Linked DNA regions of Homo sapiens: region 1 is reported to be linked to region 2. Evidence: microRNA targets listed by miRTarBase, many of them from high-throughput screens and not tested one by one. Region 2 holds a microRNA gene; the other region holds the end of a gene's coding sequence.
Evidence for each region. The annotated mature microRNA hsa-miR-655-3p reads AUAAUACAUGGUUAACCUCUUU and lies in region 2 at 6,974-6,995, shown strand. An mRNA with a match to its seed (bases 2 to 7 or 8) in the 3' UTR can be bound and repressed. Matches are read on the target gene's strand: a 7mer-m8 pairs with bases 2 to 8, a 7mer-A1 pairs with bases 2 to 7 and ends in A, and an 8mer does both.

Region 1: miRTarBase lists ZNF695 as a target of hsa-miR-655-3p. The part of its 3' UTR that is shown has no 7-base or 8-base seed match.

The regions. Positions count from the first base shown.
Region 1 is chr1:246,975,210-246,991,617 of GRCh38, forward strand. ZNF695 (zinc finger protein 695) reads right to left here. Exons shown (of 4, transcript NM_020394.5): 4 at 10,114-13,046. The coding sequence ends at 11,758. ZNF670-ZNF695 (ZNF670-ZNF695 readthrough (NMD candidate)) reads right to left here. Exons shown (of 7, transcript NR_037894.2): 4 at 12,912-13,046; 5 at 4,631-4,795. Among named protein-coding and RNA genes, the nearest start is that of ZNF695, 25 kb to the right of the region's middle. RefSeq lists an enhancer at 3,638-3,932.
Region 2 is chr14:101,042,637-101,055,234 of GRCh38, forward strand. MIR655 (microRNA 655) reads left to right here and starts at 6,914; the gene lies at 6,914-7,010. It overlaps MIR381HG (MIR381 host gene), which reads left to right and starts at 2,521. Exons shown (of 3, transcript NR_104192.1): 1 at 2,521-2,548; 2 at 8,431-8,633; 3 at 8,966-9,159. MIR889 (microRNA 889) reads left to right here and starts at 5,265; the gene lies at 5,265-5,343. It overlaps MIR544A (microRNA 544a), which reads left to right and starts at 6,022; the gene lies at 6,022-6,112. It also overlaps MIR487A, MIR382, MIR1185-1, MIR1185-2, MIR381 and MIR487B, and 2 more genes. RefSeq lists enhancers at 3,129-3,629, 3,630-4,130.

The sequences.
Region 1 (16,408 bases), not on the chromosome of region 2:
CAGTGTAGGCATTCCATGAATACGTACTGCATTCATAAATAAATAAATGAGTGATATGCTGTTGGCAAAATGAATATAAGCAGAAATTGTAACTTCGGAACACTGATATCCACCAATATTTATTGTGAATTTATTGGATAGTGTATTTTCCATATATTTATGTGTCATGACCTACATTTAACTCCAAAGGAAATATGCAATCTATATAAATCCATTTTTCTGCCTTCTAGAAGCTTAGTCTACGGAGGAAACATATGAACGCAGACCATTAAAATACAATGTGATGAAGATTTTAACAATTACAATGCACTGAAGTTTTGGACTGAGGGCTGTGGGAGCAATAATACAGTGCTTCGAACTTAAGTAAAATGAAACAAGAACAGTTTTACTAACATGCTGAGAACATGAAAGTTCAGAGTTTGGCATGCAAATGCTGAGGGCTGAGGAGTAATCATGAGGCAGAGGAGCTAGGAAGCATATACAACCCTCCCAAGATTTTCATTGACAGTAAGGAGTAAGCTAAGGTGTAAACTGAGCAGGAGACAGTATCAAGAAAATGATTTAAATTATGTCTCTGAGGGAATTAAGCCAAGTGAAAGAAAAATCGAAGACAACTAAAACAAAAGGGAATCTTTAAAGAGGCTAAGTCTCAAAAGAGGTAAAAGAGAAGAGAACAACTTATTCTATTAGGCGAAGAGAACAACTTATTCTATTAGGCGAAGAGAATAACTTATTCTATTAGGCAGGAGGGAAGGAGGAAACGACCATCTCTGAAGGGAAATCTCAAGGTTAAGAGAGAGAGGCTTCCCAAGCATAAGATGAACAGTTTCTGTTTTCCCATGAAGAATGAGATAGACCATCTGCTGATACTGGCTGGTGAGGGAGACGCTGAGGGAGAGGCAGGGACAAGAACTTTATTGGTTTATAATTGGTGTGCAATGTTGCTGCCCTAAGCTGCATCCTCACACATAAAAAACTTGTCCTTATGTCTCTCTTGAAATCTATGCAGAAACTAGATGTGGCACACTGTCCACATGGGGGACAGAACACAAGGTTACAGAAGCACCACAACAAGAATGAAATAGTCATTTCTACATTTGCAAAACAATTTTTTAATTAGCTAATTATTTAGCTCAATGATTGCTATATCCCTGTAGGTATATGTGCTCAAGGATCAGTTATTATTTCTTTAAATCCTTTTGAGGCATTCAAAGACATAAGACATTCTATTTCAGTGGGAATGTTGTAGTAGGCAACATTTGCTGTAAATAAACAACACATGACAAAAGGAGTAAATTACACTGGCCGGGCGCGGTGGCTCACACCTGTAATCCCAGCACTTTGGGAGGCCAAGGCGGGCAGATCACGAGGTGAGGAGATCGAGACCATCCTGGCTAACACGGTGAAACCCCGTCTCTACTAAAAATACAAAAAATTAGCCAGGCATGGTGGCGGGCACCTGTAGTCCCAGCTACTCGGGAGGCTGAGGCAGAAGAATGGCATGAACCCGGGAGGCAGAGCTTGCAGTGTGCTGAGATCGCGCCACTGCACTCCAGCCTGGGCGACAGAGCGAAACTCCGTCTCAAATAAATAAATAAATAAATAAATAACACTGAATTTATCCTGAAGAGAAAATGCAAAGCCAAATAAGAGACCCCCAAATCAGACTGAAAATTTATTTGCCTCTATAAAGTTCAGAAAACCAGAATGAGAAGCAGCTACTTTTTAAACTTTAGACATTATAAATTTACAATTCAACATGAGATTTGGGCAGGGACACATATCCAAACTACAACAATACTTACAAAGTCAACCTCAGATCAGTTACGCACATATTTTCTATCATTCCCAGTTCCCTGCCATTCGCAAAGTTTATGAGCATTTTTTATGTTCCCTCAAGCCCCAGATATAAATGTAAGAGCGTTGTGCCAGCTAACAAAAACTTTCATATGTGCCAAAATAAATCTACTCATCAGTGCCCACTGGTATTTTAATGGCTCAATAGAAATGTTTTGTACAAGGTTGTGAAGGCCTTTATGAAAGGATACATTTTTTGTTGTTGTTTTTGAGACAGAGTCGGTCTGTCGCCCAGGCTGGAGTGCAGTGGTGTGATCTTGGCTCACTGCAACCTCTGCCTCCTGGGTTCAAGCGATTCTCCTGCTTCAGCCTCCTGAGTAGCTGAGACTACGGGTGCCCGCCACCATACCTGGCTAATTTTTGTTGTTTTTAGTAGAGGCGGGGTTTTGCCATGTTGGCCAGGTTTCGAAAGCCTGACTTCGTGATCCACCCGCCTCAGCCTCCAAAAGTGCTGGAATTACAGGCATGAGCCACCACACCCGGCAAAAGGATAAAGTTTTTAAAAGTCTTTTAGGATAGCTTTGTTATCAGGTGTATAAGCTTAATAACACTCTCTTCCAGCATCTCTATTTGTCAGAGTTTTTATGACATTGGTGATTTCATTTTGATTCTAAAAACTTTCATACATCTCATTCTGTAGCAATTAGTTTGCGTTCAGCTACAAAGAAAAGACTTTTGTATAGTATCAGAACATATGAGGTGTACTCTTACGTACTTGGGCAGCAGAACTAATAGTGCAGTGACCTTATAGTGTGCCAGTTTCTTTCCATTTCCTGTCTCTGAAATGGTCTACACCTGGTCATTGTGCTCAAGCTCACTCCTTCAGAACCCAAGTCGGCTGATCCACCTCCAGGCAATTGAATCACATTCCAAACAGCAACAAGGAGAAAAATGTGAAGCTAATAGGACAGGGAATGTTATTAAAAACCAGTGTTTTTTAATTCAGAGAAGGCCAACCTGTTCAGGCACTTCTCTCTAAATCTCATGGAGCAGAACACTATCACTCGGCCACCAATGTAAGCAGAAACATTTCTCTGTAGCAGAACACAGGAGACATGATTGGGAGTGGCTGCTGCTACCTGTACTATCATGAGTTCTGACAAAAAGGCTATTTACATTGTGCACTGGAACAGGGTGTTATGAAAAAACCCTCAAATTCAGAATACATTCATCCCAGAGTCACAATAATTATGTAAGCAAATGGAATGCTTATTCTTTAGAGGTATAATTAAACAGCTGTCTAATCATTTGATTACTTATGACTTTGTAATGAAAATTATCAAACACAACAGTGAGAATGTAATATTCAATCCCATAATCAAACATAACCTGTTAATCTTTTGTAAGGTTTTACATTTTGATAAAATGTTCAATAAATTGTGGTGCTTTAATTTGCATGATGATGATGCAACACATAAAAGCAAGTGATTTACTTGAAAGGTGATCCCAGGAACAGAAGGAAGCAGTGAAGGAAGATGGGAAAGAGCAAGAAACCAATAAAGGCTGTGGAGTCGGTCAGACCTATTTTTGTTCATACATTTTTGGAGTTTTGAGTCCAGCTCTAAAGTTACCACATGTGTATGGCGTATTCCTAGTATGACTATGTTAACTCAGGATAAACTACGGCTCAGGTACTGCAGAGGCTGCTGCACGTAGAATGGACCAGAACCACCTGGAGGGCTGTAGGATAACGGGTTGCTGGGCCTCTCCTTCATGTTACTCACTCAGCAGTCTGGTCTGCTTTGTTGCAAATTTTCAGGTGTTTCCAAAGCTGCTTGTCGGGGAAATGACTTGAAGAACTTCTCTGGCTGCCCAGTATGATGATGTTCTCCAGTGAAGACAGTGGCCCGCGTGAGATGCAGTAAGATACAGTGATCGTGAATGCTTTTAAGTGGACTCTAGTCTTGTTTATCCAAGTGTGAGAAATGAGGTCATGTGTGTTGGACTTCTGTGGTTTCACCTTGGAAGCCTGACTACTGTTCAAAGTCTACAACAGTCAGGTACATATCCATTCCGGGTATACACGTGTAACCTAGGCTAGGATCTAAAGTCTTTACATGGCCTGGGCTGGAATCTGTCTCAGATCCTAGAGAGCTGCTCTGGGTGAACACACCTGGAGGAAACACTGAGATCCACAAGGGGAGATAACTCAAAAATAGAGTCCTTTGGTGGGTTGTTTTTGGAACTGTTCCTGTTGCTTTGGGGATGACATGGGGGAAGATGTGGAGAAGACGGTGGTGGTGACAACGGAGGTTTGAGGGGTACGGGACCACACCCAGACTTAGAATACAGCCCTCGTTTCTCCTGATTCCGTTTGTCATAGCCAGGAGAGCATCCTGGGTAATTTACCTAGTTAGAAGAATCTCACCCAGGGGACTGGGCTTTTGATTTTGCCATTTCAAGGAAAGACGTGCATCATACCACGGGCACTACAGATCCTTGAGACCTCCTTCAGCTCTCCTCTTCTTTCACAGCCTTGAAAATTATCTTTTAATTGATAGCCTCAGAAATGTTATTGAAATCTTTACTACCCATTCGCTAGGTGAAATTATCTAAATGAATTTCGCATTCCAAATCTAACCATATTTCTTAAATTATGAATATGGTTGAGAAATTTATTTTTAGGCAATCTTTTTGTTTCACATAATTTGCTCATAATTGTTAGTTTAGAGTATTCTTTAAAATGAATTATCCCCATTACTAAATAATTTGACTGTTTAATCTTTCTAAAAAAATTAAAATACGTCATTCTAAATAACTCGTTAAGTTTTACCTTATATTTATAGAAGCCTTCCCAATTACTCATATAAAAATCTTATGCTGGCCGGGTGCAGTGGCTCACGTCTGTAATCCCAGCACTTTGGGAGGCCGAGACAGGCGGATCACGAGGTCAGGAGATTGAGACCATCCTGGCTAACACGGTGAAACCCCGTCTCTACTAAAAAAAAAAAAAATACAAAAAATTAGCCAGGCGTGGTGGCGGGCGCCTGTAGTCCCAGCTACTCAGGAGGCTGAGGCAGGAGAATGGCGTGAACCTGGGACGCGGAGCTTGCAGTGTGCCAAGATCGCGCCACTGCACTCCAGCCTGGACGACAGCCTGGACTCTGTATTTAAAAAAAAAAAAAAAAAAAAAAAAAACTTATGCTGTGTTTGAATACATAATTTGTCAATCAGTTACATATTTTTAAACAGCCTTGAAAGACTGATTTTATTCTTATAAAATGATACATTTAGTCACTTTCTAGTTATAGACCTGTACTATTTGGCTGTTATATTATACCTAAAGCTGTTAATTTCCCTTTTTAAAGCAGTAATGAAATATGCAAACTATAAGATTTGCCCCCCTGCCACTTTTTTTTTTTTTTTTTGAGACAGACTCTTACTCTGTCGCTCAGACTGGAGTGCAGTGGCGCGATCTCAGTACACTGCAATTTCCACCTCCCAGGTTCTGGTGATTCTCATGCTTCATCCTCCCAAGCAGCCGAGATTACAGGCGTGCACCACCACACACTGCTGATTTTTGTATTTTTTGGTAGAGACAGGGTTTCACCATGTTGGCCAGGCTGGTTTTGAACTCCTGACCACAACTGATCCACCCGCCTCAGCCTCCCAATGTGCTGGGATTACAGGAGTGAGCCACCGCACCCGGCCGAGTTTACCCATTTTTGAGTGTACATTTTAGAGGCATTAAGTGCATTCACATGATGGGATACTCATCACAACTATCCTGAAACCTGAAACTATTATGAGAAAACATAAGGCAAAAGTACCATGACATTAGTCTGGGCAATAATTTTTTAGATTTAATGTAAAAATCCCAGGCAACACAAGCAAAAATGAATGAAACTTCTTTCAACTAAAAAGCTTCTGTACAGCACCAGCTACAATCAATGATATGATGAGACAACCACAGAATGAAAAAATATTCAAATTATATGTCGGATGGGTTAATATTGAAAATACATAAGAACTTAAACTATATGACAGAAAGATATTAAAAATGGGGAAAATATCTAAATATGTTTTTCAAAAGACCTACAAATGACCAACACATATATTTTTAAATGTTCATCAATAATCATCAAGGAAAGGCAAATCAGAACTGCTATGAGGTATCACCTCACTCTTGTTAGAACGACTATAATCAAAAAGACAGAGGATAAGTGTTGGCGAAAGTGTGGGGAAAGAAAAATGCTAGCACACTGTTGGTATGAATGTGAACCAATACAGCCACTGCCAAAAACAGTATGATGATTTCCGCAAAAAAATTCAAAATAGAACTACCATATGACACAGCAATTTTACTATTGGATATATATCCACAAAAATAAAATCAGTAGGTTGAGGAGACATCTTTATTTCCTAAATATTGAAAGAAATATTTCCCAAATTTTGAAATATATAATATTTGGGAATATTTGGGAAATAAATGTTTCTGTCTTTCTCATAAACTCAGTGGAAAAGACTCAAAAATAAAGTTTTCGTGATGTTTTTGTTCTATTAGTCCGTCATCAGTACAGGAACTCAGGTATTTACCAGTGTGCTCAGGGCCTAGCACAGAACATGGGAAGGACTGAAATATTTTAGAACTTTTACTTTAAGCTTGGGGGTACCTGGAGCTGCTGTTCCTGATGGTGATGGTATAGAAAACAGTAAAGAAGCAGACAGTGCTAATGGTCCCAATTTGGCTATTGTAGAAACACAGAAAACAATTTAGCACCCCAAAATCACTGAGGAAATTGTTTTAATCCAAAAGCTACCATGATCTCTGAGATGTCTTTAGAGTGAATGGCCAAGCGGTTGGCTAGCTAGGTGATTAAGAATGAAGACTATGGACTGCCAACTGCACCCAATGAAACATAGGAAGAGATTTAAAAAGTTCCCAAGATTGCAAAAATAAATCTAAATGAAAGATTATTTCAGGCCGGGGGCAGTGGCTAAAGCTTGTAATCTCAGCACTTTGAGAGGACGAGGTGGGCGGATCACGTGAGGTTGGGAGTTTGGGACCAGCCTGACCAACATGGAGAAACCCGGACTCTACTAAAAATACAAAATTAGCCAGGCGTGGTGGTGCATGACTGTACTCCCAGCTACTTGGGAGGCTGAGGCAGAAAAATCACTTGAACCTGGGAGGCGGAGGTTGCGGTGAGCCGAGATCGCGCCATTGCACTCCAGCCTGGGCAAAAAGAGTGAAACTTAGTCTCAAAAAAAAAAAAAAAAAAGATTATTTCAAATTTTAAATCCACAGAAGTCATTCTATTATTGTTCAACACAACACACACATTCAAAAATAGGTTCTGCATGGAAACATAAGGTGTGCTGTAAGTGTTTCATAGAAAATTAAATTCAAAATTATCCACTTATCATTAACTCTCCTTAAGAATTTCTAAGATACATTTGCTCTTCAGAGATTTCCAAATTCTGACATGTTTATTTACACACTGCTTACAATACATAGTCCAATATTATTAAAGCTTTACCTATTCTAATTAATTATACATTCACCACACTTTGTGTCAGGATTTTAAAATATTTTCTTTTAACAAACAAACAATGCTAACTGCCCGATTTAATTCTCTGGCCCATGGACAGTGCATCCCTCTCCTCCATTAAGAGTGTTGCTTGGCCAGGCGCGGTGGCTCGTGCCTGTAATCCCAGCACTTTGGGAGGCCGAGGCGGGCAGATTACGAAGTCAGGAGATCTCTATCTATTTATATCCTTTTAAACATCTCTCAAATAAGTTTGAAAATTTTCTCCGTACAACTCTTACATATTTTATGTCAGCTATAGACTTAAGTATTCCATATATTTGATGCAATTATCAATGGTGTCTTTTATTTTAAAAACAATTTTCTGGCCGGGCACGGTGGCTCACGCCTGTAATCCCAGCACTTTGGGAGGCCGAGGCAGGTGGATCATGAGGTCAGGAGATTGAGACCATCCTGGGGAACACGGTGAAACCCTGTCTCTACTGAAAATACAAAAAAATTAGCCGGGTGTGGTGGCGGGCGCCTGCAGTCTCAGCTACTTGGGAGGCTGAGGCAGAAGAATGGCATGAACCTGGGAGGCAGAGCTTGCAGTGAGCCGTGATCGCGCCACTACACTCCAGCCTGGGTGACAGAGCGAGACTCTGTCTCAAAAAAAAAAAAAAAGAATGTGTTGCTTGTAGCTGGGCCACATGGTGGCACATGCCTGTAATGCCAGCACTTTGGGAGGCTGAGGTAGGGGGGTTGCTTGAGCGCAGGAGCTTGAGATCAGCCTGGAAAACACAGTGAGACTTCATTTCTACAAAACAATAAAAAAAATTAGCTGGGCATGGTGGCATGTGGCTGTACTCCTAGCTACCCAGGGAGCTAAGATGAGAGGATAACCTGAGCCTGGGAGGTTGAGACTGCAGTAAGCTATGATCACAATGTCAGTTTTGTAAAATATAAATGACCTCAAACTCTCCAGTTAAAAGTCAATCTATTGGCTGGGCGCAGTGGCTCATGCCTGTAATCCCAGCACTTTGAGAGGCTGAGGTGGGTGGATCACCTCAGGTGAGGAGTTCAAGACCAGCCTGGCCAACATGATGAACCCCATCTTTACTAAAAATACAAAAATTAGCCAGGCATGGTGGTGCGTGCCTGTAATCGCAGCTACTTGGCAGACCAAGGCAAGAGACTTGATTGAACCCAGGAGGTGGAAGTTGCAGTGAGCCAAGATTGCACCACTGCACTCCAGCCTGGGTGACAGGGTGAGACTCAGTCTCAAAACAAACAAACAAACAAACAAAAATCTATCATCACATTAAAAAATTTCAAATTTCCAGGCCAGGTGTGGCTCATACCTATAATCCCAGCACTTTAGGAGGCCAAGGCAGGTCAGTCACTAGAGCTTAGGAGTTCAAGACAAGCCTGGGAACATGGTAAAACCTCATCTCTACTAAAAAAAGAATTAGCTAGGAGTGGGGGTGCACACTTCTAGTCCCAGCTACTCAGGGGGCTGAGGTGGGATGATTGCTTGAGTCTGGGAGGCAGAGGTTGCAGTAATCCGAGATTACACCAGTGCACACCAGCCTGGGTGACACAGTGAGACCATGTCTCCAAAAAAAAAAAAAAAAAAGAAGAAGAAAAAGAGAAAGTCCAAATTTCCTGTTAGAATGTACAAAGTACTATATAAGATGACATATTGTGTGGAGAACAGTGAGAAAGTGTAGCCATAACACAGGTTTTAAAAAAAAAAAAAAAAAAAAGGAGGAGAGCTGGAATGCATAAGTAGTTGAGAAGAAAGAAAAAGAGACCACAAAAAAACAGAGATAATTTGGAAATAAAAGCAGAATTCCTCTTCAGAGAGAGTCAGTTGTGCAGCCTGGGTAGAGAAGTCCTTTCTCTGCATGCAGAATCAATGCCAGGTCTTCATCCTGGATATTTCCAATCTCTTACCTGGAGCCACAACTTCACTCCAAAAAGAATATTTATTGTTAATTATGGAACATCTACTACACATCTGGCACTGCGTTATGTTTCTTCACTTCATTTATATGCCAAATAGCCCTATGACTTATAAAGCCTCCAAAGTGTTTATCTGAACAAATTGCCCAATAGAGTCAATAAACTCAATTACTCAATTAAGTGAAAGAAACAATAACAAAAAAAGTTGGCTCGAATAGTGTTCTCTAATAATGGAAAAATGGAAATGTACTAATTAAGTACAATGAAAATTAATACACTCACTGTGGAATTATTCACATCTTCAGATTATTTTTTAAGCACCAATAAGTTTCATAAAATCATTATTATAATCCCTGAGAAGATCACATAAGAAATTCTTCATGAATTTTGGAACAAGAAAATTATACGTTAGCTCTAGCATGAGCAACATAAAAGTAAAAACAGGAATTTCATGTGGAAATTCTGCAAAATAAGATTTTAGAGAAATGCCTTCAATACAAAGCAGAGAAAACAGATTTGCCTTCGACATTTTTGAGGTTTCTAGTTTGCTAATAAATTATCCATACTTTTGAAATTATGTTTGGTTCCAACATTTTTCTCTTATTCTGAAAACAGGTATGCACTTACTTCAAACACATTACTTGCTTCATAACTGTCTTACACCTAACATTTATCCTTAGAGTAGTATATTTATGTATTTATCTCCATGTAAACCAAAACTAAAAGCATGTATATGTTTTGCAGGCCAGAAAAGCCACATGTTAAAAGGAAAATGTAAATAAAATTTTGTGAATAGTCCTTCAAGATTCAGAAATACACGGTCTTTGATTATAATCCTATATAGGCTTTATTATAGCCTTAATAATGACACTGTCATTACAAAAAGAGCAAACAGAATGAAGGTGTAACGTGTGGGAACAATATTTTTCAAATTATTTGAAGTTTAATGCCACTGGGAGAAGGGATCATTAGAGATACTATTCCACCATGTTACCCACTATTGTATTGTTACCATTTGTTACCTACAACCGTAACTAAGGTGAGATAGGTTAACGTTGGTGGTAGGATACGCATCACTTAATGTACAACGGTCCAAAGACATTAAAACAATGTCTTATTAAAACAAATTAAGTTCAAACAGTCTAAAAAGAGCATTTCAAAATCCACTGAATTTTATTACCTTAATGTGCAATAGGAAAAACAACTGACTTGTAAAACTCAAATGTTTCTTTCTTAAATATAATGCAGAATAGTACTCTGAAGACCTATCTCATGAATCACTTACAACCCTATTATAAGACAAGTACAAAGAGCCTCTCCAGTTAAATTTCTTCAGGAAGCTTACAATGCAATGTCCATAATCTTCCAAAGAAAAGGATATGAACAACACCCACCCGAATATAGAAGAAACTCTCACAGCTTTCATGTAGCAACAGTAGGCCTCATGCCTTCACATAAACACTAGAAATGAAGGCATGGTATCAAGTGATTTAAGACTTGAATTACATAAATATGTGATTTTCAAAAAAGCTAAAACTCTTTCAGTGCACCGAGTATACTTTATTATTATGTTGTTATTATTATTATTGAGAAAGGGTCTTGCTCTGTTGCCCAGGCAGGAGTGAAGTTGCCAGATAGCAGCTCACTGCATCCTCAACCTCCAGGCTCAAGCAATCCTCCCACCTGAGCCTTCCAAGTAGCTGGGACAACAGGCATGTGCCACCAAGCCTGGCTTTTATTTTACTTTTTGTAGAGATGAGGTTTTGCCATGTTGCCCAGCCTGGTCCCAAACTCCTGGGCTCAAGCAATCCCCCGACCTCGGCATCCAAAAGTGCAGCAACTATAGGAAAGAGCCACCGTGCCTGGCACCAAAAGGTATACTTGAAATGTAATTATAACTTCCCCAAAAGGTGAATCTCCTACTTACTTTAACTTAACTTTGAATTATTCTCTATAACCAACACTCAGATTTACAGTAATGTCTGAAAGTGTCAGTGACTTAGTGCTTTTTACTATGAATTCTTGGATGTGTTTTGATGTAATTTTTGATTAGACATTTTTTCACATTTACTGCATCTGTAAAACAGTTTTTAGTGTGAACACTCTGGTGTTTTCTGAGGTATATTTTTTGAACAAATGTTGTTTCTGCATTTATTACATTTGTAGGGTTTCTCTCCAATACAAAGTCTTTGAAATTGAATACAGTTTGAGCAACTGGAGGGTTTCCCTCCAGTATAAATTCTTCTGTGTACAGTAAGAGCTGTGATATAAGTGGAGGTGTTGAACCGGTCTATTTGTATTGTTCGTAGCCTAAACATTTTAGTGCACTCAAAGGCTCATAGACTGTAAATGGCCTTTTGACAGTCATTACATTTGTAACACTCTTATTCAGTAAAAATATTCTGCTGTGAAGTTGTGAATAGGTATTAAAGACTATGCCATATTGTTTAGAATTGTAGGGTTTTTCTCAGGTATGAGTTTTCTCATGTACAGCAAGTTGTGCAGAGTGGTTAAAGGCTTTGCCACATTCCTCACACTTGTATGGTTTCTCTCTGGTATGAATTGTCTTATGTTTAGAAAGGTGTGAGCTCTGGCCAAAGGCTTTGCCACATTCTTCACATTTGTAGGGTTTCTCTCCAGTATGAATTCTCTTATGATTAGTAAGATATGAAAACCAGTTAAAAGCTTTGCCACATTCATCACATTTGTAGGGTTTCTCTCCAGTATGAATTCTCTTATGTTGAGTAAGGTATGAAAACCAGGTAAAAGCTTTGCCACATTCCTCACATTTGTAGGGTTTCTGCCCAGTATGAATTCTCTTATGCTGAATAAGGTATGAGAACCAGGTAAAAGCTTTGCCACATTCCTCACATTTGTATGGTTTCTCACCAGTATGAATTCTCCTATGTTCAGTCAGATGTGAGCTCTGGTTAAAGGCTTTTCCACATTCTTCACATCGGAAGGTTTTCTCTCCAGTATGAATTCTTCTATGTTGAGTAAGGTATGACAACAATTTAAAGACTTTGCCACATTCTTCACACTTGTAGGGTTTCTCTCTACTATGAATTCTCTTGTGTTGAGTAAGGTATGGGAACAACTTAAAGGATTTGCCACATTCTTCACATTTGTATGGTTTCTCTCCAGTATGAATTTTCTTATGTTTAGTAAGAACTGAGCACAGGTTAAAAGCTTTGCCACATTCTTCACATCTGTAGGTTTTCTTTTCAGTATGATTTTTCTCAACAACAGCAAGACTTGAGCAAGACTTAAAAATGTTATTACATTCTTCACATTTGCAATGTTTCTCTCCAACATGAATTCTCTTACAGTCAGTAAAGCATGAGCACTCATTAAAGGCTTTGCCACATTTTTTACATTGGTACGGGTTCTCTCCAATATGGATTCTCTGCTGTTGAGTCATTATTAAAGACATGCAAGAGACATTGCCACATTCTTTGCATTTGAATGGTTTTTCTCCAGTATGGCTTATCTTACATTTATTTAGATTTGCAAATTTACTAAAACCTTTCACACATTTATTGCATTGAAAGTTTTTGCTATGAGTAGTTGCTGAGCATAGGTCAAGTCCATTATAACTTGCCTTCTGCCCTTTCCACTCACCCACAATTTCCCAGTCATTCCTTAAGCGTAATTTCTCAAGACAACATCTTTCATATCTTCTCAGCATCACTTTTTGGAATGAAACTTGCAGGCCCTGCTCTGGCAAAATGTCTTCAGTAAGATAAGAAGACAAAACTGGAAAAAATAAAAACAACAAATTATTCCACTTACTAGATAGCATCCTTTACAAATCTAAGGCATAAAATTATACAAGCATATTAGCAAGATAGCATAATGAAATACCACAGGCCCTTATTCCTTCATAGTCATAATCCTAACAAAAATATACTAAGCAAAATGCCATTATGAGAATCCTAAAAGCAGCCAAAGGGGGAAAAAAAGAAATGACGTACAATGAAGCTCCAGTACGCCTCACTGCAGACTTTTCACCGGAAAACTTACAGGCCAGGAGAGAGTGGTATGACATACTTAAAGTGCTGAAAGAAAAAAAACCTTTACCCTAGAATATTATATCCAGCAAAAATATCCTTCAAACATAAAGAGAAATAAGGATGGCCAAACAAAAGCTGAGGTATTTCATCAATACCAGACCTGTCCTACGAGAAATGATAAAAGGAGTACTTCAATCAGAAAAGAACATTAATTAGGCAGATCACCTGAGGTCGGGAATTCAAGTTCAGCCTGACCAACATAGAGAAATCCCGTCTCTACTAAAAATATGACATTAGGCCGGGCGCGGTGGCTCACGCCTGTAATCCCAGCACTTTGGGAGGCCGAGACGGGCGGATCACGAGGTCAGGAGATCGAGACCGTCCTGGCCAACACAGTGAAACCCCATCTCTACTAAAAAATACAAAAAAAAATTAGCCGGGCGTGGTGGCAGGCGCCTGTAGTCCCACCTACTCAGGAGGCTGAGGCAGAAGAATAGCGTGAACCCGGGAGGCGGAGCTTGTAGTGAGCCAAGATCGCGCCACTGCACTCCAGCCTGGGCAACAGAGCGAGACTCCGTCTCAGAAAAAAAAAAAAAAACGACATTAATTGGGCGTGGTGGCGCATGCCTGTAATCCTAGCTACTCGGGAGGCTGAGGCAGGAGAATCGCTTGAACCCGGGAGGTGGAGGTTGTGGTGAGCCAAGATTGTGGCATTGCATTCCAGCCTGGGCAACAAGAGTGAAACTTTGTCAAACAAACAAAAATTAAATGATGAACAAATCAAAAATGATAACTACAACAAGTTTTCAAAACATAGTACAATAAGAAACAGCAAAAAGTTAAAAATCAGGAGTACTAAGCTAAGGCGTAGAGTTTTTATTAGTTTTCTTTTCACTTGCTTTTTTATGCAAAGAGTGTTAGGTTCTTATCACGTTAAAATACATCAAACCAAAAAACATACAATGGATACACAAAAAATGAAAATCAGGAAACTAAATCATATCACCAGAGAAAATCACCTTCACTAAAGGAACATAGACAGGAAAGAAAGAAGACCACTAAACAACCAGTAAACAAGTAACAAAATGGCAGGATTAAGCCTTACTTACCAATAACAACATTGAATGTAAATGGAGTAAATTATCCATTCAAAAGAAATAGACTGGCTGAATGGATGAAAACACAAGACCCACTGACCTGTTGCCTTTAAGAAACACACTTGAGGCCAGGTGCAGTGGCTCACACCTGTAATCCCAGCTCTTTGGGAGGCCGAGGCGAGCAGATCGTTTGGGCTTAGGAGTTCAAGACCAGCCTAGGCAACATGGTGAAACCCATCTCTACCAAAAATACAAAATTAGCTGGGCTGTGGTCCCAGCTACCTGAGAGGCTGAGGTGGGAGGATTGCTGGAGCCTGGGAGGCAGAGGTTGCAGTGAGCCAAGATTGCACCACTGCACTTCAGCCTGGGTGACACAGTGAGACCCCATCTTGAAAGGGAGAAAGGGAGAAAGGGGAAAGGGAAAGGAAAGGAAAGGAAGAGAGAGATGAACGAGGGGAAAGGGAAGGGAAGGGAGAAAGAGAGAGAAGAAGGAATGAATGAAGGAAGGAAGGAAGGAAGGAAAAGGAGAAGGGGAAGGAGGGAGGAAGAGAGGAAAAGGAAGGAAAGAAAGGAAAGGAAGGAAAAGAGAAAGAGAGAGAGAAAGAAAGACACTTTACCTATAAAAACGCACATAGTCTGAAAATAAAAGAATGGAAAAGGAAATTCCATGAAAAACAAACAAACAAACAAAAAAGAGCAGGAGTCACTATACTGGTGTCAGTCAAAACAGATTTCAAGACCAAAAGTATAAGAAGAGAAAAAGAAGGTCATTAAATAATGATAGAAGAGTAAAATCAGCAAGAGAATATAACAATTGTAAATATATATTTATCCAACACCAGAGTACCCAGATATATAAGGCAAATATTATTAGAACTTTAAAGAGAGGCCCCAGTACAGTAACCGCTATATACTTCAGGACCTCATTTGCAGCACTGGACAAATCTACTAGACAGAAAATCAATAAAGAAACATCGCACTTATCTGCACTATATGCCAAATGGATCTAATAGATAGTTGCAGAACGTTTCATGCAACAGCTGCAGAATACACATTGTTTTCCTCAGCACATGGATCATTCTCAAGGATAGACCAAATGTTAGGTCACAAAACAAGTCTTAAAGCATCCAAAAAATGGAAATAATACCAAGCATTTTCTGTGACCTCAATGGAATAAAACTAGAATGAAAAGAGGAATTTTCAAAACTATACAAATACATGGAAATTAAACAATACGCTCCCAAATGACCAGTGAATTAAAAGAAATTCAGGAGGAAATTTAAAATTTCTTGAGACAAATGATAACAGAAACAAAATATACCAAAACCTATGGGATACAGCAAAAGCAGTACAAACAGGGAAGTTTATAGTTACAAGTGCCTACATCAAAAAAGAGGGAAAACTTCAACTAAACAATCCAACAATGCATCTTACAGAACTAGAAAAGCAAGCGCAAACAAAACCCAAAATTAGTAGAAGAAAAATAATGAAGATCAGAGCAGAAATAAATGAAATTAAAATTTTAAAACAATTCAAAAGATCAATGAAACAAAAAATTAGTTTTTTGAAAAACAAAATTGAGAAAAACCTCTAAGACATTAGTCTAAGCAAAAATTTCTGGAGCAATACCGCACAAACACAGACAACCAAAAAAAAATGGACAAATGGGAACATATCAAGTTAAAAAGCTTCTGCACAGCAAAGAATGCAATCAAAGTGAAGAGACAACCCAGAGAATGGGAGAAAATACCTGAAAACTACTCATTTGACAAGAGATTAACAACCACAAGTTATAAGGAGCTCAAACAACTCTATAGGAAAAAAATCTAATAATCCGAGCCAGAAAAAGCTCAGGAGATGTGAATAAACATTTCTCAAAACAAGACACAAATAGCAAACAGGCATATGAAAAGGTTGTCAACATCACTGATCATCAGGGAAATGCAAATCAAAACTACAATGAGATATCATCTCACCCCAGTTAAAATCACTTATATCCAAAAGCCAG
Region 2 (12,598 bases):
TCCCTTAGCCAGTGTTCACCAGGAGGGCTTCCTGGAGGCAGTGGCTTTGGGCAGAGGCAGAGGTTCTTCTCCCAGGGTGTTTTTGCAGGCCCTAAAGGGATTTCAGCCATTTTACATTTACATTATTTCAAATGGTACAGGATTGCCTGTCTTTTGGTAACCAATCCTGTCGTGAAGAGATGCTGGGAAGTAAAGTCAACTGTATGGCAGGCCCCAGCTCCAGGGCCAGCCAGATGAGGCTTGTCACCTGGCCCCTCCCCCTTGGTCTCAGGCCTCGCAGGAGGAGATGTCCACTCCGGCGAAGACCCGGCATAGTCCTCACCTGCTCTTTGAGCCACTCTTTGGTACTTGAAGAGAGGATACCCTTTGTATGTTCACTTGATTAATGGCGAATATACAGGGGGAGACTCTTATTTGCGTATCAAACTCTGTCGAGGAAGACGCTCAGACCCTGCTGTCTCCAGGACAAAGCCTCGGATGTCAGCCCCTCTCAGGTACGGCTTGGCTTCCCTGTCTGGGAACGTGAGCTTGGCTGTGATCCTAGCCCTTGGGTTCTGCCTTCGCTCTCTGTGCTGGTTCTTCCTGTGGACTCCCTGGAGGCAGTGGGAGAGGAGGGTCCTTTTTGTGTGCACTGAGTTTAATGGTGGTTTGCTTTTTTTAAGGATAAATCACATGGATCTGCCTCTTCTCCATACCAAGTCATACCCAGAGGGCTTCCTGCGTCCAGCACTAACCTCGCACCTCTCCGGACACACGAATGGGTGGTGGATGGTGGAGCGCAGAGCTGATGCTGCTTCTCACCTGCTACTCCCCTGACCTGCCACTCCCTGGTGGTCTCCATCCTTGAGAGAGTGTCAGCCTTGAGGGAAGCACATGGATGTCAGGTTGTTCTAAGGCAAGTTACTGGTGGAGCTCCCTGAGCCTGCCTGTGCCCTCTGGGACTGTCGCTGGACTCCAATGGCCAGTCCTCGGAGCACATTGTCCAGTGATTGCACCTGAGTGTGCCTTGGGCAGGTGTGTCTGGTCTTCAGGACTCCTTTGTCGCTAGAGTCTGACGCTGGGGCCCTCTTTTTGTTTGTTTCGAGGTAGGTACAGGTGACACATTCTTGGATCTGGTCATCTCTAGGACAACCAGCCTCAGAGGAGAGACATTGTCTCAGCGCTCTCCAGCTCTGAGAATGCCTGCAGATGCCTTCTTCTCTGATAACTCCATGTCTTGCCGGGCTGAGCCCTCACACCCTGTGCCCCTTTGGAGAAAGGTGATGGTTCCATTGTCCATGTAGCTTGTGGGTATTTGAAGCAGGTTCACCCATGCATGCTGAGCACACTGATAGTCATGCCTACCTGTTCCCTTGTTTAGAAGCCAGTCTCGCCTGCAGGGAGTCCTGGATGTGCCACCTTTCGGGGCCAGGCCACAATGTGCAAGGTGCAGGCCCAGCTCCAGGGTCAGCCAGATGAGGCTTGTCACCGGGCCCCTCCCCCTTGGTCTCAGGCCTCGCAGGAGGAGATGTCCACTCCGGCAAAGACCCGGCATGGTCCTCACCTGCTCTTTGAGCCACCCTTTGGTACTTAAAGAGAGGATACCCTTTGTATGTTCACTTGATTAATGGCGAATATACAGGGGGAGACTCTCATTTGCGTATCAAACTGTCGGAGAAGACACTCATACCCTGCTTGTCTCCAGGACAAAGCCTCGGATGTCAGCCCCTCTCAGGTATGGCCTGGCTTCCATGTCCGGGAACGTGAGGTTGGCTGTGACGCTGCCCCTGGGTTCTGCCTTCGCCCTCTATGCTGGTTCTTCCTGTGGACTCCCTGGAAGCAGTGGGAGAGGAGGGACCTTTTTGTGTGCTCCAAGTTTAATGGTGGTTTGCTTTTTTAAGGATAAATCACACATTGATCTGCCTCTTCTTGGTACCAAGTCATACACAGAAGGCTTCCTGTTCCCAGCATCAGCCTTAGAAGGGGGACCTGGATGTTGGATCATTTCAAGGGGAACACAGACAGCAGTGATGGTGGACCACGGAGCACTGGCTCTGTCTATGCTGTTTTCGAGCCTGGTAGGCCAGCCCCAGGAGGGCTTCCTGGAGGTGGTATTGACCTTGGGGAAGGGGCTGAGGTGTGCTCATCAGCGCTTTTTTTTTTTGATGCTTGGGTGTTCATGATCCAGCTCGCAGTCCCCAGGCTGAATCTGTAAGAATGGTTTGCTTCTATTTGTCATTTGTGATTGCCCATGAAGGCAGCGCTGGGGATGAGCCGTGGGAGCTGTCAGCCCCGCACCAGGTGCGTGCATGTGGGAGGTCAGAGGGCGCCTGCTTCTGCCTCGATGTCTGTGCCCCGTCTCTGACTGCTGGCTTTCTGCTCACACCTAGGATGGCTGCCTGAGAATGGGACTCTTGTTCTGTGTTTGTGGAGACACTCCTTGGGCCGTGTGACTGCCGGCTTTTTACACCCCGACTGCCATGGGGGTCATCTGGACCCGAAGCCAGCTTCAGGAAGGACATTCGCAGCATCCTCAGCCCAAGGAAAGCGAACGTCCAGCTGAAGAGAGGTGAGCACCACGCCTGGGTAATGAGTCACATAACCTGCCACCTGGACCAGGCGGCTCCCGCTCCTCTCCCCTTCTTGAAGGAGAGACCACTGTGGGGAATGGGCTGTGGGTCTGCTTCCTCAGTTACTTGGGGGTACGTGGGGTTTACTACTGTTGACCCTGTGCTCTTTCTTAGCATGGCTTCATGGCCACGATGCCAGCCTCTGGCAGGGGTGGGGCAAGGGCTGGCATGGAGAATGACACTGGTGTCAACGGCTCTGTGAGATGGATGAAGGGATGGTGACCACAGGGCCTTTGCTTTGTCTAAGGTGTAAATTCATCCAGTGCCTGGGACCTCGGTGCTGAGTGCATCCTTAGGAAAACTTCCTGGAGAGGTGCCCACACTGGGAAGGAGATGGTGGTCCCACCCCAGGGAATTCCTATAGAAAGTGAGAAGCTGAGCTCTGCGTGTGCCCAGGAAGGCCCGTGGGGTGGATCTCCTTTTCAGGAACAAGTTCTAATCTGGAGTGATGCCTGGAAAAGAGGCTGATTCTGGTGAAGGGGCACTGGCGTCTGCCCCTTCCTGGCCCCTTTGGGATGGAGAGCTGACCTATGGGCACACAGCTGGCAGGTGGTGTTTGCCACCTGGTCTGCTGATCCCGCATCTCCCACCCCCTCCCCCGCCAGGATGAACCCCGGGAGAGGAGGCCGGCCCCGTGAATGATAGTGAGGAACCTGCCCAGTGCTATTGTTTGGTACTTAAAGCGAGGTTGCCCTTTGTATATTCGGTTTATTGACATGGAATATACAAGGGCAAGCTCTCTGTGAGTATCAAACCTTGTCTTGGACCCAGTCCACACTCAGCAAGGGATGCGGTATGTGTGTGCATGACCGTGTGTATCCGTTTTGTGTGTGGCAAATCGTTCACGGGTCCCCACTTCACAGAGAGGACTTCACGGGCACCTGGATGACTTTAGGGAAGGCAGTGGCCTCTGGGACATCCCCTCTCCTGGTGCAGTGTGGGCGGGGCCAAAAGCATGCACGATGTGTGTGGTCTGGGTCCCTGCTTCCTGAGCGGGAAGTCATCAGCCCGGGCCGATGGCTGGGGTGGCGCTCGTGTGGGGTAGTGGCTTTGTGGTCCCTGCTGTTACTCGGTCCGTGAGTGTGCATGTTCTGCTTGGGGTATGTGACCCGGTCCACTAACCCTCAGCATCTAATTCATCCCCAGGACCGCGCCTTGAAGACGTACCAAGTCCACCCAAGGCAGTGGCTTTCTTTTCCGTGCTAACCTTTGGTACTTGGAGAGTGGTTATCCCTGTCCTGTTCGTTTTGCTCATGTCGAATCGTACAGGGTCATCCACTTTTTCAGTATCAAGAGCGCAGACTCTGGAGCTCGATTTCCTGTGTTTGGATCCCACCTCTGACATTTACTAACCGTCCAACCTTGGGCAAGGATCTCATCGTGCTGTGCCCATTGTCTCACATGTCAAAGGGGAATCACATTGGCGTCCATTTCTTGGGGCTGCTGGGGCTGAACGAGTTAAGACTTGTACACGGCTCAGAGCAGAGCCCCGTGGTCGGCACTTCGTAGGTGGTAGCCAGGACCCTTGTGTGCTGTGAAACTATCATTGGTGGTGGTGGTGGTGGTGGTGGTGGTGGTTTTATGACTAAAATCTCTCCATGGGTTTTTGGAACAGTGTCAAAACATGGAAGTCAAGTCCTTCATCGGGTATGGAATGGACTAGGAAGCCCAGAGCATACACGGTGTTTACAATGGGGGCTAGTGATGCTCTTGATGCTTGGCAGCTAAGCCATTCACACAGTGGCTTTTGATACAGAATGCCACATGCAGTGGGGGTCAGCAGGGGTGCCGAGAACATTTGCTCCACTTAAGAGAGACAGTCCCTGGGTTCTTGACCTCGGCCACTATCTACGCTTTGAAGGAGTCTTGAGCGAGGATGCCAAGCTGAGTGAGGATTCTATGGCATCTTGCTTCCCTGGTGCTTAAAGAGAGGTCAAACTTGGTGCATGCATTGTGCATGCCTGTGTGTGCGTGGTGTGTGTGCATGAGCGAGTGTGTGACTGGGTTTGCCACGAAGCAGTCACCATCTAACCTTGAGCCAAAGACCTGGAGGTGGTGGTCCGTGCTGCTGTTTCATACTTGAGGAGAAATTATCCTTGGTGTGTTCGCTTTATTTATGATGAATCATACAAGGACAATTTCTTTTTGAGTATCAAATCTTGCCTCGGCAGACTTCCTGGACGCCATGACAAGTTCTGTAAAGGGATGCACGCATCAGCCCTTCCCAGGGGCTCACGCCTGGGTGGGGATGAGGGCGCATGCAGTTGGTTTGTGGTGGGGACACTTGTGCCCTAACCTCAGAACCCTGGAGGCGGGGCCACGCTTGGCAGGGGGCCACGGGACTCCTTGGTGCTATCAGGGATTTGCATTGGCCATGGGTGTGTGTTGTGGGTGACGCAGCATTCAAGCTACTTATCAAATCCTGCTTCTTGGAGGCACTTCTTGGACATGAAGCAAACCTTAGGGACCGATCATTGGGGCCAGACCCCCTTCCCCTGCCCAAGAGTGTGACTGACCCCCAGGCATGGGCTTGACTCTCAATGTGTGAAGCTGACCTGCTAATCCTCATTGTTTGGACTACCTGAGAAGAACTTTCTGGAAGAGACACCAACTTTGGAGAAGATGCCCAGCTCTTCTTGATGGCACAGTTCTTTGGTGCTTAAAGAATGGCTGTCCGTAGTATGGTCTCTATATTTATGATGATTAATATCGGACAACCATTGTTTTAGTATCCAAATTTGCTTCAGAAGTTTTTGAAAGCACAGTGCTGACTTCAGTGAGGGGACATTGGTGCCTGCCCCACCATGGAGTGTGACTGTGTTGATGATTTATAATGATGAATCCAGTGATCTCAGAATGCAAGCCACCAGTGTGATTTCCTTGGACAAATGCTAGCTTTGGGGTGGAGATGCCATTTAGGGGCTTGGTGCCATATCTTTTTATTGGAAGATGTTCACAATTATTTCATCTCTCTTTCTCTTCTTGTTATTAAATCTTAGCCACGAGGAATTCCTTGGAGAGATGCCGGGGTCAAGCCTCTCTCTAGGTAGATGGTGGACCGGGGAACCTGGGTCCAGCCTCTCCTATCTGTAGCCTTCATTCTGAGTATGAAACACTTCCTGTAGGGAATGCAAACATTAGTAAAAACTCCGTACATTTCCTGTTACTATTACTACTTTTTGGCAGCTCCTAAGCAGCTGCCTGTTGGGTATTTGGATTATTCTTGGTGGACGTGGCATGGCTTCGTGCCTTCCTTGGGAACCACCCCATCTTAGACAGACTCTCATGGAATAAGACGTTGTGGTCGACAGCACCTCTGGGGTGTGTGTGTGTGTGTGTGTGTGTTTGTGTGCGTGTGCATATGAATAGTTGGCTAGAGTAGTGTTTCTCAAACTTTAAAAATGCTCCTAAGATTTTCATCACCTAGGGATCTTGTTAAAAAGCAGATTCTGATTCAGGGACCAAGATTCTGCATTTTTAGCAAGTTCTCAAGTGATGCTAATACCGCCGGTCTGTGGACAACACTCACAGTGGTTTGGGGCTGGAGACCAGGTGCTTTCCCTGTGATATGTGTCGCCTGTCTCCCCACATGCCATATACCGTCCATCGTGGGAGAACGGCCCAGAATCAACGTGCCATGTTTTGGTTTGTGAACAAGGGTTCACTTTCACATGCGTAAATAGCATGAGATTACTTTTCTTTAAAATCAAATCATGCCTCAAAGGGCTTCCCAGATACAAGACCTGCTTCAGGGAGGGGCCGCCGGTGTCAAGCTGCTGCAAGATTGTCGGGTGCAGGTCAACGGCACGCTTATTCATTATTGATGTGCTGGGCCCTGGAATTCTGTGACCCTCCGTTTCCAAGCAGTCATCGGGAGGAAATTCCAGGAACTGAGACCATCTCTGCGGTAGGGACCCTGTCTTCAGGGATCAGTGACACCCCATTTTATCGGAAACAGAATTCTTCATGATGGCTTTGCTTATCTCTGACATGCATTCTGCTGGTTCTCGTCATCAAATCCCGTCTTTCAGGAATCCGTGGAGGAAGCTTTCATATATTTTTAATGGAACCTGCCTTAGAAGTCTTTCTGAGCATGGTTCCAATGTCAGGGTTTTGACTTTGGTGCCAGGGCTGCCTGGGCCCTGAGACTGAGGTACGGGAATGGAAGGTCAATGCCAGTACGTGTGCTTTCTTTGCAGGATGTGAACACCTCCCTGCCCCAACCCTGGGATTCAGCTCATCCCAAGAAGAATCTTCTGGAAGCAAAGACAACGGTGGGGAAGAGGCCATGGTTTTCGTTTCAGAACTATGCAAGGATATTTGAGGAGAGGTTATCCGTGTTATGTTCGCTTCATTCATCATGAATAATACATGGTTAACCTCTTTTTGAATATCAGACTCTGCCTCGGAGGGCCGCCCCCACAGGAGACGTGAGAGTGTGTGCCTTGTGTGAGCTGAGAGCCCCTGCCCCGGCTCCGTGCTGCGTGAGGGAAGCTTCCTGGAAGTGAGGCTGGTGGAGGGAAGAGCCCTGGGTTGCTTTGCTGTGTTTGCTGTGAATGCGATGTGTTTTTGCGAGTTATGTGAGGTTCCCTCCTCTTTGAATGCCAACTTGTGCCTTCCCCCAGTGGCTGGGTCTGTGGCTTAGCCACAGGGCTAGGTCCCTTCCTGGACCCAGTGCTTTTCAGGGTGGGTCCCTGGGGGCAAGGACAAGGTTTACCACTCCACTGGGACACTTGAGGAGAGGTTAACTCCTCCATGCGGACTCCTTTGAGGACAGCCTGTTTTCCTCTCAGGGTGGCTCCCTGGATGAAGTCCAGCACCTCTGTGGGTGTGTGAAGGGCAGGCCGACTTGGGCTGTGTTCCCACTCCTCACCCAGGTCACTGGCCCAGTGCCACTTCCTCCTCAGGTCAGCTTCCCTCTGCCAGCCGACCTGGTGGGGTCTCCTGGTCCATTGCTTGGTGCTCATAGACACTGGCACGGTGCCAGGTTCCCTTCACTCCTTCCCGATGGAGACCATGCAGCTAATGAATCTTCGGCTCTGTGATGCTGCCTTGGAGGGCTTCCTGCACACAGCACCTGGTTTGAGAGGAGAACACGGACTCCAGCGTGTCCCCTGGTTATGGAGAAGGGAGGCTGTCCTTGATCCCCCGTTTGGTGGATGATATAGTTTGGCTGTGTCTCCACTCAAATCTCATTTTGAATTCCTTTGTGTTGTGGGAGGGTCCTGGTGGGAGGTAATTGAATCAGGGGAGTGGGTCTTTCCCTTGCTGTTCTTGTGATAGTGAATGGGTCTCATGAGAGCTGATGGTTTTATAAGGCAGAGTTTCCCTGCACAAGGTCTCTGTTTGCCTGCTGCCATCCACGTAAGACCTGACTTGCTTCTCCTTGCTTTCCACCATGACTGTGAGGCTTACCCAGCCACGTGGAACTGTAAGTCCAATTGAACCTCTTTCTTTTGCAAATTGCCCAGTCTTGGGTATGTCTTTATCAGCAGCCAGAAAATGGACTAACACAGTGGAGGGCAGTGGCACCAAGCCCCGCCCCCTTCAGGATGTGGTCCCTGTGTGGGGCAGCATCCTGGAGTGGCTGCAAAGCCCCACTGCTCTCTGCCTCCGTGGCTTTGTCCTATCTGAGGTGGCCAGTGCGCTGGGGTCCCTGTGTGGAGTCAGTTCTTTATGGGTGCCTGCAGGTGCCGGCTTCACAGTAAGAAAACTGTCAGCTTCGCCTGAGGTATGGGCACAGAGGTGACGCAGGGATATGAACTTTGTTGACGAATGTGTTCTCTGCACAGCTAACCCAGAGAATTCATTCCACCCTCAGGAGAAGCCCTAGAAGTGATACAGGCTCTGGCCGGGGGACCCGATGTGCTCGTGTCGCGGCGTGGGGCTTGGTGAGGAACCACCGGAGTGCTCTTGCATTTTTCATGACAAAGACCACACAGTTGGCCTCATTCCTGCACAGTGGGAGAATGTGTGGAGGTGTCCCGCCACCAGAGAGGAGGTCTATGTCAGCACCATCACCAGGTACCTGGGGGAGGGTCTGCTGACGATGCCCAATGTTCAATGGCCCAAGCAACCCGTCCTTGGGGGACTTCTGGGCAAGACCATTTCGGTGCTCAGCCCCACTCCGTGTCCCAGGCAGAGAGGGGGCTGAATTGATGATACCTATTAAATGGGTCATTAATTCTCATTATCCATGCAGCCTGCCCATGAGGGTCCCCCAGAAGGGAGGGCAACTCCGGGGAAAGGTTCTGGCCATCAGCACGAGGCCACGATCCAGGAGGTGCTGCAGAGCCAGAGGCCACAGGACAGATTATCAAGCCAGGTCACAGGCTTTCTCTGTCCTTGACCCTCAGCATCCAGGCTACCTACAAGAGGAGGCAGGGGGACTCCTCTGACACACCTGGGGAGGTCTCGTCAATGGCAGGTTCCCTCTACAATGCTTTCTCTGCTGCAAATGCAACTCAGCATCACCTCTTTCCTGGATATAATTCCAAGGAATTATTAAAGGAGGCATTGGTGTCAGCACCTCGTGAAATACTCGTAAGGATGACCCATGGCAGAGCCTGTGTCTTCATTGGAGTAAGACTCACATGCTGTGGCCTCCAGGCTCTGGAGGCCTCGGGGGCAGAGCAGGGTTGAGGCTGACCGTGGGGCCTCGCCTGGGTTTGTGGCTTATCATATTGGACCACTGTTTTTCAGGACAAACTCCCCGGAGATGTCCCCTGGCAGGACCCTGACCTGGAGGCAGGGTGCTGTCCATGATAGGGGAATGGATGGTTGATCAGAGAACGTACATTTTATAAATGGTGTATGTCAGTTGATCCACAGTCCCTACCTATCCAGTGACTTCTGGAGGCCACATCAGCTCAGAAGACAAGGTGGTGGTTTCCTAGGCCATGCTATTTTCTGGCACTTGAAAGGACCTTCTCCTTGCCGGGTTTGCTTTCTTTATGCCCAGTCTCATGAGGGAGTGCCTTTTTTGAGTATGGATCTTGCTGGGGAAGCTTTCTGGAAGGAGCTGTTGCCCTTCGTCCCTCTCCAGGGGCAAGAATGCATGGTTGGCTGGAAAGCAAGGGCTTGATTGACATTGTGCACCCCTCAACTCTCCTAACCCTCTGTCCCCAATTCATCCTCAGGCGGACTAGCTGGAAGGAAGGCAGACTCTGGTGAAGACGTGGGCCGTCACCGTCAGCCTTCGGTACTTGAAGAGTGGTTATCCCTGCTGTGTTCGCTTAATTTATGACGAATCATACAGGGACATCCAGTTTTTCAGTATCAAATACTGCTTTGGAAGGCTTCCCGGACAGCGTCCCGCCTTCAGGCAAGGGGTCTTGGCTTCACCTCCCACCCAAGGTATGTATGTGAACGGGCCATCGCAGTGCACTAGCTTCTTCATGTGCCACAGCCATGACCAGAATCGAATCTCTGAGGAAGATGGTTACTTCTAAGGCTGTGATTTTCTGGAAGGGGCTTTGGTGTCTGCACTACATTATTGGGGGAAGTTGACCAGTGAGAGGCCCATTCACACAAGACGTCTGTCACCTGCTCCAAGTGACCCTCACCCTTGGTAAGATGAATCTCTGGAGACATGCTGGCTCGGTAGTGTTACTGTCATCAGCCGGACTGACTGATAGGTAATTGGTCATCATTATTGCTTTTGTTCCAGGGCAGAATTTTTGAGTGCCAAATCTTGCCAGGGAAGGGTTTCTGGAAGCAGCACCGCCCTCTGGGGAGACTTGGCATCCACATCTGTTGGAGTTTGTGGAGAGTTAGTTGAGCAGTCTGAGCTTTGTTTCTGAGGCGTCTCCCTGAGCTCACTCTCCTGCCAGAGCTGTGTCCTGCCCATGGCCATAATGGCTATTGAGAGGGTTGGTGACTTTGGCCACCATGATTTTGTTTCGATAAAGTTCTCTCTTTTTAAAAAAATCAGATTCTTTTGTTTATAGCATAACTACATGGTTCATGAGTTGATCAAATAACAAGGAATGACTTGGTCATTCCATAAATAGTGATGGAGTGCACACTGTGTTCTAGGTGATTCTGGACCTTAGCAGAGAGCAGTGAATGAAATCAAGTTCTTGCTCATGTGGACTTTACATTCTGGTGGAAGAGACGGATGAGAACACATGAATTAGGAAGCGTAATTTTGTCCACTGCTAGGTTTTATGGGGAAAGGGAAAGCGGGTTACAGTGACAGAAAGAGGTAAAAGCAGGTGGACCTTTGTGTTAAATACAGGGGTCTGGAAAGCTCTCTCTGAGGATGTGGGTGGGAATGGAGTGGGGTGGACCAGAGGAAGGTCTGGGGTAGGAGCATTTCAGGAGGAGGGCAAGGCCCATGGAAAGCCCCCTGGCATCTTTAAGAAAAAGCAAGAAGGCCAGTGGGATTGAACCGAGCTGCTGGGAGTCGCTGGGTCTGAGCTGGGAGAGGCAGGACTCCAGGTTTTATTCTGAGTGAGATGGGGGATTTGGAAGGGTTGTGAGCAGGGGGGATGCGTGGTCTGTGTTGGAAAGATCACTCTGACCACAAGGGCATTGATAGAGAATCTACCCAGGGCAGTGATGGGGAACCTACCAGGAGCCTGGCGTGCCTGAGCTGGGCAGTTTCTCTAGGGGCACCTGCAGTGGCAAAAGGGGGCCCCCTCTGGACCTCCCTAGTTCAGTGGGCCCTGCGGGAGCCTGGCTGGCACCTTGATGTGCTTGATGGATAACTCAGTGTGCTCTGTTGAGAAGTCCAAGGCCCTGTTCAGAAACCCTGGGGTCTACACACTGCGGAGTGCTCCTGGCGTGTGACAAGTGGCTTCCCTCTTCTTATTTCTAAACCTTGTGCGTGTGGATTCAGGACCACAATTTCAACTCCAGGGAAGGGGGACTGTGCCAGCACCACTCCAAGGGAGGTGAGTGAAGGGTTGCCCAAACTCCAGTGTGTTCCTAGGACACCCGTAAGCTGCCTCACTAATGCTCGGTGTCCACTCTGTCCACAGGATGGTGGTTGGCAGCCACTCCCCTTGGAGAAGTGGAAGGGGACTCCTTGTCTGTCTTGTCTCTGCTTTTCTGTGGTACTTGAAGAGAAGTTGTTCGTGGTGGATTCGCTTTACTTATGACGAATCATTCACGGACAACACTTTTTTCAGTACCAAATGCTACCTCTAAGGACTTCCTGGACACAATGGCAGCTTCAGGAAAGATAGTCTTTGTGTCAACCATGTGGAAAAGCCAAGAATGGATGGCGGGCCATGGACAATGCGCTGACCTAGCTGTAAGTCACCTGGCCCGATAATCCGAGCCTCCCATGCACCTATAGGAGGTCTTCCCATGGGTCTCACCAACTCTGGGGAATCAGCTGTGGTTCTGTCACCAGCGTCACCTCACAAGACTTTGAAGAGAGGCTCCCTGGGCCCCAGGCCGACTTCCAGAAGAGATGTTGGTGTCAGCACCGTCCAGGGTGTGTGACTGGTTGACCAGAGGGGCATGCACTGTGTTCACCCTGTGGGCCACCTAGTCACCAACCCTCAGCATCACTCCCACTCCAGGAAGACTTTCCAGAGCTCCCACCAACTCTGGGGAAGCGGCCATGGACTTGCTGTGACTGCTTGGTGGACTGCGATGACACGTGCTCTTGGGGGTGTATGTTTACTTAAAATGCAATGAGTCAGCCTTGGCAGCCCCTTCACCACTGTGACAGCCTCCTTGAAGTGTTGACTTCCGATGTGGGACGCCATGTTGTCTTCTGTTGAGGGACCTGATGTGGGCCAGCTTTTCTCCTGGGTGTGTGACTGAATCCTTCTTCCCAGAGCATGTGCTGCCTTTGTTAGGTCTGTCACGTCGTCCTCTAATACCCAGCATCCTGTCTCTCCCTAGGAGGCTCCATGGAGATAATGCGGCTTTGGGAAGCGGCCATGATTCTCCTGTCAGGGACCAGTGAGCTACGCAAAAGCTCCCTGTCTTGTCTGGAAGGACGAACTGCATCCTTGCTGCTGGGGAGAAGG